Linked DNA regions of Homo sapiens. The protein of the gene in region 1 purifies or fractionates together with the protein of each later gene. This does not show direct contact. Each region holds a gene or a part of one and is shown on either strand. Other genes may lie near its edges. The genes, in order: NSUN3 and ZNG1B.

Region 1 (3,600 bases):
ATTACTTCAGCCTCTATGGAAAGCAGTTTGGAGATTTCTCAAAGAACTTTATAACAGAATTGCCATTTGAGCTAGCAATCCCATTAGTGGGTATATACCCACAGGAAAATAAATTGTCCTACAAAAAAAGACATAAACGCTTGTGTGTTCATCACAGTAATATTTACAATAGTAAAGATACGGAATCAACCTAACCGCCCATCAGCAGTTGATTGAATAAAGGAAATGTGGTACATATACCTCGTGTAATATTACACAGTGATAAAAAAGAATGAAATAATGTCTTTTGCAACAACATGGATGCAGCTGGATGCTTTTATCCTAAGCAAATTCAGGAACAGAAAACTAAATACATATTCTCACTTACAAATGGGAGCTAAATATCGAGTACACATGGACATAAAGGAACAATAGACACTGGTGACTACTAGAGTGGGGAGGGGAGGAGGGGGATGTAGGCTGAAAAACTACCTATTGGGTACTGCACTCACTACCTGGGTGACGGGATCGTCTGTACCCCAAACCTCAGCATCATCCAGTATACCCATGTAACACACCTGTTCATGTATCCCCTGAATCTAAAAAGCTGAAATTATTTTTTAATGAGAAGATAAACCATAATTATAATGAAATAGGTAATATTGAGCATTGAATATTCTATAAATTGTTTATATATGTTGTCTTTTTTTTTTTTTTTTTTTTTTTTTGAGACAGAGTCTTGCTCTGTCGCCCAGGCTGGATGGCGTGCAGTGGCATGATCTCAGCTCACTGCAACCTCTGCCTCCCGGGTTCAAGCAGTTTTCTGCCTCAGCCTCCCAAGTAACTGAGATCACAGGCACCCGCCACCATGCTTGGCTAATTTTTTTTGTATTTTTAGTAAAGATGGGGTTCCACCATCTTGGCCAGGTTGATCTTGAACTCCTGACCTTGTCATCCACCTGCCTCAGCCTCCCAAAGTGCTGGGATTACAGGCGTGAGCCACCACACCCACTGTGTATGTTGTCTTTATTGATGCTTAAAACAAACTCAGGAATAAGTATTATAACCCCCTTTTGTGAATGAGAAAACCAAAGCTCAGTTCTGTTTATAGTTTGCCAAGGCTACACTGGTAAGTAAAGGGTTCAGCCAATGTATAGACAGACTGTATAGATATATGAAGTGGGGGTGGGGGCCAAGGAGCTATTACTGCTGTTTGGAAATACTTGCCTCTTGTAGATCCAGCTTTAACATTTTTATGACATCCTAGTAATAGCAGACCCTGCACAAAGTGGATATCAGAGTTAATACTGTGAAGAGACAAAATAATGAGAATACTTTTACCAAAGATAATGAAATCTTGCATAATGTCTGCATTTTTCCATTGATTGGAGTGCATCCTTAGAAAACTGAAAATAACAAAAACCCAGGACATTTTTGGAAATTGTATGCTCTCTAGCAACTTTGCGTGAATTTTTATACAAACACTTATGAGTTATATAAAATGTTCTAAAACTAGAAAAAACATGGTCTTGTAACATGTTATTTTCTTAGATCACTGGTTTCTCAGAACATGTCTTTCTGCATGGCCTCCTCATCCCCATCCCAGGGGAGAACGTGAATGTTCCAAGGGACTTCGGCCTCTGGGGCTTCCACACTCTGGGTGTCAGGGGTACAGCTCACAGGCTTTCAGTTTGGCCACAGCTGAATGATTGAGAATTACCAGATAAATCCTCCAAATCCATTTCTCCAGAAACCTCTTCCTAGCCACACAGTGGGAGCCTTGTTTGACCTTTTTTAACCTTTCCTGGTCAGGTGCCAGGCCAGTCCTGCAAAGCCAGCAAAGTTTCATTTTCATTCAACCCTTTTTTTTTCACTTTGAATCAAATGGAATTTAGTTCCTCCCACTGTCCCCAACCCAGCTAGAGTGCAGTGGTGTCATCATGGCTCACTGCAGCCTCGACTTCCTGGGTTCAAGTTATCTTTTCGCCTCAGCCTCCTAAGTAGCCTGGACTACAGGCCCACAATACCATGCCTGGCTAATTTTTAAATTATTATTATTATTATTATTGTAGAGATGTGACCTCACCAGGCTGGTTTCAAACCCCTGGCCTCAAGTGATCCTCCCACTTCAGCCTCCCAAAGTATTGGGATTACAGGTGTGAGCCATTGTGCTCGGCCTCATATATTATTAGTTGTAAAAAAGGATGCATGTTTTCCCTCACCTTCTCTTTGGCTAATTATAAATCATTTTACTTAATATTTCATAGTTAAAGGGTAGAGCCGCGATCAAAACTGGCTCCGAGGTCCAGGCCCTTTTCCCAACACTATGCTGTCTCACAGAGTGTAGGTTGTTTGAACCCTCAAGATTATTAACTGACTTTACCCCTATTTTCCATTGTTCAGTTTCCTCCTTTTGTGTCATACCCTATTCCCAGGGGATGAAAGGATTAATCAATACTTGGGAAAAAAACAACAACCTTTGAACTGTTTCAGGCCATATTGTAAAGAAGTGTGTCTTGTGATTTTGATACCCAGAAATCTCCAGTGGAGGGTATTCTCTGCCTTCCTTTTCTTTGCAGATGCTGAGCTGAAGAATGGAAATTTGGAGCAGACTTGCAGTGTCAATTGTAAAGCAAAGAGTAATTGATATTACTTTCTGTGACACTGAGTTACTTTCAAAATAGCTTTATAAAAATTTAGGTTGCTTACCAACACATTAACTTCTCCCTGCCGTCCACACGCTGAACAGCCACTACTTTCAGAAATAGACTGAATAAATGTAATGCATTTAAATGGTTTGTACTGAATTTTTTTAAGCATCAGATATTATCTGTGGTTGGAAATCAAGGTGTCCTGCAGTTCTTTATCTTATTATGTATATTCCTATAACCTTATACTCAAGATTTCATATTACTTCCTTAGCAGTATTGTGAAAAATATTCTTTCATACAATGTGGGTAGGTAGAAAATAATAGCTACCTGCACACCTGGCTATGTGACCAAATAATCACAAATCTAATAGACCCTTATCCAAGAAGCCTTTATGCCTGGGAGATAAGCATCAGATAATCTGCATAGATGAATGCAACTCATCTGGAATACAAAGAGAAAATTAGAACCAATAGCAATAATTTTATTAGATGCCAAAAAGTCCTTTGATGCAATTGAATGAGACTACTTGTATTATGTGTTAGGTAAATTTGGCTTTGGGGACAAATAAAGCAGATAGCACAATTTATTTTCAATCCATTTATATGGTTTAAATCAATGGTTTACAATCTCCCTTTCCCTGCCTTATTGCTGCACTGGGGAGGGAAGTAAGGATGATGCCCATTTCTGATGTTACTCTTCAGGCTGACATTGAAGCTAGAAAATCACACAGATCCCATGGGTATCTGAAGAATATTCAGATGGAGATTCACAAGTTAACTAATATATGCTGATAATCTACTACTTTTGCTGAAAGCTCTAATACCATCTGTCCTGAAAACATTAAGAGTAATGTCAGAATTTGGAGTGGCTTCAGGCAAAGTCAATGGGAGAGAACCAGAAATACTATCTTGACAGAATAGTTTCTATTAATGTTATTGTGTGATAATAAAAATAAAATAAAAATTTTAA
Region 2 (3,828 bases), on another chromosome or scaffold:
TTTTCACATCACTGCCCTGTGAAACACTCATGTTCAGGGCCTCTGTCTCAGGCTTGGACTGGTTTTAAGATTTTCCTCATTGCCCTAAGTCTCTCCCATTCTATACTTCATATTTTTGTGATGTTGAGCTTCCTAAAGTACTCTAAATATAAGCCTTCATCTCTTAAAAAGCTTTGAAAGGAATATGACCTAAAAGATATTAATACCCTAATACTCTGTAAAATCTTCCTAGTTATATACTAGAAAACTTAATGTATTTCAGAAGACATGTATAGCCTACATGTAAAAGTTTTTAGCAGCACTGTAATAGTAAAACACTGGAAACAAACCAAATGTCCAACAAAAAAAAAAGATAAAGAAATGATATAGTCATACAATTGAACTACAATACTATGCAGTTAGGATTTTCTTTTTTTCCTCTATGAATTTTAGTGTGTACGGTTCACAAGACTATTTTTTTTCTACTGGAGATTGACATATTGGGTTTTATATGCCACCTGCTGGATAAAGTTGGTATAGCTTTATGAATTTATCTTACTGAACATTCTGTCCATTGTTGACACTACCTGGCTCTATTCCCCATTTCATAAAAACTTTTATAGATTGTTTAAAGCATACTATAAGTAGCCATATAGTCAGCCTGAAGTTGCGTCTTGTTAATGTTGAAATAAAAGGTCATTATAAATAAAAGATTGTGTGTAAATTTTAGGGAAGGTTAGGCTAGGTTGAAGAAACTGTTTCAACTTGTAGGAGTGTTTGTAAATATTTATAAAATTTTATGTCTACATAAAGTATTTTGCAACAGGTTTCAAAGGATGCTTTAATCTTATCCTCTAGGATATTCTATACTAAAATAATATATGAAAAATAGCACGCAAATTCTCAAAAACGTTAGGATTCTTTATATGTTTTTTGTATCTTTAAAATTATTTTGAATTTTTTTATTTACAAAAAATATGTTTTATAGGTGCTGGGAAGACAACACTTCTGAACTATATTTTGACAGAGCAACATAGTAAAAGAGTAGCGGTCATTTTAAATGAATTTGGGGAAGGTAAGTAAAGTTCAATAAATGTCATGTTGCAAGATTTTGTGTGACTGTTTATTCCTCTGGTGAATTGCTATTCCATATTTAAAAATGAAAATGCAAGGTATTGTATTGATGTGGATAGCTTTAGAAAAGTTGGATTAATTTCTGTTAAGATTTATATGGGTTGAGATACTGAAATTAGTTTTAATAAAATTTTATTTTGTATAACTTTGGAATTCTTATTAACAGAATTAAACTACATTTTTACATGAAATAAATGACTCCAGAAGTAAAAATCTAGACATATGAAAAAACGTTTATTTTTTATTTTATTTTATTTTTTTTGAGATGGAGTCTCTCTCTGTCGCCAGGCTGGAGTGCAGTGGTGCAATCTCAGCTCACTGCCACCTCTGTCTCCTGGGTTAAAGTGATTCTCCTGCCTCAGCCTCCCGAGTAGCTGGGACTACAGGCGTGCGCCACCATGCCCAGATAATTTTTGTATTTTTAGTAGAGACAGGGTTTCACCATGTTGGCCAGGATGGTCTTGAGCTCCTGGCCTTGTGATCCACCTGCCTCGGCCTCCCAAAGTTGCTGGGATTACAGGCATGAGGCACCATGCCTGGCCAAAAAATGTTTTTTTTAGGAATTAGGAAGGCACTTTTGTATGGACTCTATTGCAACTCATGAAAAATACTTGAAAATGCTTCTGTTATTAGTTAACTTTGTTTAATGTTTATTATCTGCAATGCAGTTAAAACTCAATATTTTAAAAATAAAGGTAAACATATGGTCTTTATCCTCATGTATTTTAAGTTATCTGTGAAAATAAGTGTGCTTAACTTCTCAACTGAAATATTAAACTGTAGTCAAAAAAATAGCTCTAGACACAATACTTCTGTTATCTTTATAGAAGTTTTTCTTCATAAGTATGAATTGTAATCAAAGCTCACTTCTAGCCAAAAAACAATATCTATTAAATGATTTCTTTTAAAATGTACTATTTTTTTTCAGTTGTAAAAAGTAAAAGAGCTAGGTTTTATGAACAGGATGGGAAGCCAGTTATATTCGATTTCTGGTTTTAATAAACTAAAGAGAAAAGTGCTTTTTAGGCAAAAATCCTGAGATTTCTAATAACAGACTGTTTTTTTATCATCTTATTAAATAACCTATTGCACACTGATTACATTTATTCTTACTATTTTCTTTATTTTTTCCTGGATCATTTTCGCAATTTTATTTTTCACAGCATTCTCAATACTTTTCTTCATGTTTCCTTAATGTTCTGTATATAGTCCGAATTCTGTAGCAACCTCTTTAGAAGCTCTTTATTAATACCTAGCTGAAATATAAAAAATACGTAAGTGTAAAACTACTCGATTTTATGGGAGCTCATTTGCTTAGTGGGCTTTTAGAACTTCACCGTTTGGTATATTTCTTTATTAGAGGAAAAGTAAAACATTTAAAATAATTCTTATAGATAACAAGCATTTCAAATATAGTTTATTCTTTCTTAAGTAAGTATTGCTAGGAAAATATGTGAATTTGACTAAAAGTTTAGGTTTTTTTTTTTTTTGAGATGGAGTCTCGCTGTGTTGCCCAGGCTGGAGTGCAGTGGCACAGTCTCGGGTCACTGCAACCTCCGCCTCCCGGGTTCACGCCATTCTCCTGCCTCAGCCGCCTGAGTAGCTGGGACTACAGGCGCCCGCTACCACACCTGGCTAATTTTTTGTAATTTTAGTAGAGATGAGGTTTCATTGTGTTAGCGAGGATGGTCTCGATCTCCTGACCTCGTGATCCGCCCGCCTTGGCCTCCCTGTAAGTTTAATTTTTAAATGAGCACATGGTACACTGGCCAAAAACCTTCCTCAAGATGAACTAGGGTTTTTACTCATTGGGAATATTCAGCAGTTTGTCTAACAGAAACAATTTAGAAGAAGAATGAAAAGAAAAAGATAGATAAGGCAGTCTCTTAAGAGGTTGAAGGGCATACAAAATCCAGTATATAAAACATACTAGTCTATTTAGAAAGTTTACCCTGGACAAGAAAAAAATGCCTTCAAGATAGCTACTTTATTAAGAAATGGGGGTGGCCAAGTAAGAGGCCTAAGGAGGAAGTAGGTATGTTTATCAGTTTAGGATGTGTCTTTTTCAGGGCTTAAGTCATCTTAAATAAAAGCTAACATAATGTAGTGTACTGTAATTTAGATATCGAGGCTGCATGAATAAAATGAAAGAATATAAGTTATAAAATGCAGTTTCTGCTTTAAGATCTCCATTATTGAGTTATCCTCATCTTTGTTTTTTGTTGGCTAATGGACATAAGCTAAAGAGTGCTGTTTGTTAATTATTCTAGGAAGTGCGCTGGAGAAATCCTTAGCTGTCAGCCAAGGTGGAGAGCTCTATGAAGAGTGGCTGGAACTTAGAAACGGTTGCCTCTGCTGTTCAGTGAAGTGAGGAATGTGTTTACTGTGTACATGGTTTACTAGAAATGTTTATTGATTATATTTCCAGCTTTAATTTTCTTGAGTAATTTAACTGAATTTACACAGTTTGCTTCATTGTATTTTCAAACAAATAGAAAATAAACTTATTAGGAAGCATTTTCTTAAAGTGTTTCTTGCTGTCTTTTCTATCTGCTCTAATGTTTTGGTCCTTTTATTGAGTTTTTATTGCTTTTGATGTCAGGGCTTATTTAATCTCTAGTGCATGAAAGTCTCATATGTAAAAAATGATTATTCTGAATTTAATCTGTCATTGGTCATATTTCTAAGTGTTCAACCTTATAAAAAAAATAAATG

Evidence for each region.
Region 2: the proteins of NSUN3 (region 1) and ZNG1B purify together in Homo sapiens (affinity purification with mass spectrometry; one large-scale study listed by BioGRID and IntAct). This does not show direct contact.

Annotation. Positions count from the first base shown.
Region 1 is NC_000003.12:94,129,061-94,132,660, forward strand, and holds the end of NSUN3 (tRNA (cytosine(34)-C(5))-methyltransferase, mitochondrial), read left to right. Parts: 3' UTR 1-2,772; downstream 2,773-3,600. UniProt on the Homo sapiens protein: Mitochondrial tRNA methyltransferase that mediates methylation of cytosine to 5-methylcytosine (m5C) at position 34 of mt-tRNA(Met). mt-tRNA(Met) methylation at cytosine(34) takes place at the wobble position of the anticodon and initiates the formation of 5-formylcytosine (f(5)c) at this position. mt-tRNA(Met) containing the f(5)c modification at the wobble position enables recognition of the AUA codon in addition to the AUG codon, expanding codon recognition in mitochondrial translation.
Region 2 is NC_000002.12:113,440,384-113,444,211, forward strand, and holds part of ZNG1B (zinc-regulated GTPase metalloprotein activator 1B), read left to right. Parts: intron 1-967; coding exon 968-1,054; intron 1,055-3,383; coding exon 3,384-3,480; intron 3,481-3,828. UniProt on the Homo sapiens protein: Zinc chaperone that directly transfers zinc cofactor to target metalloproteins, thereby activating them.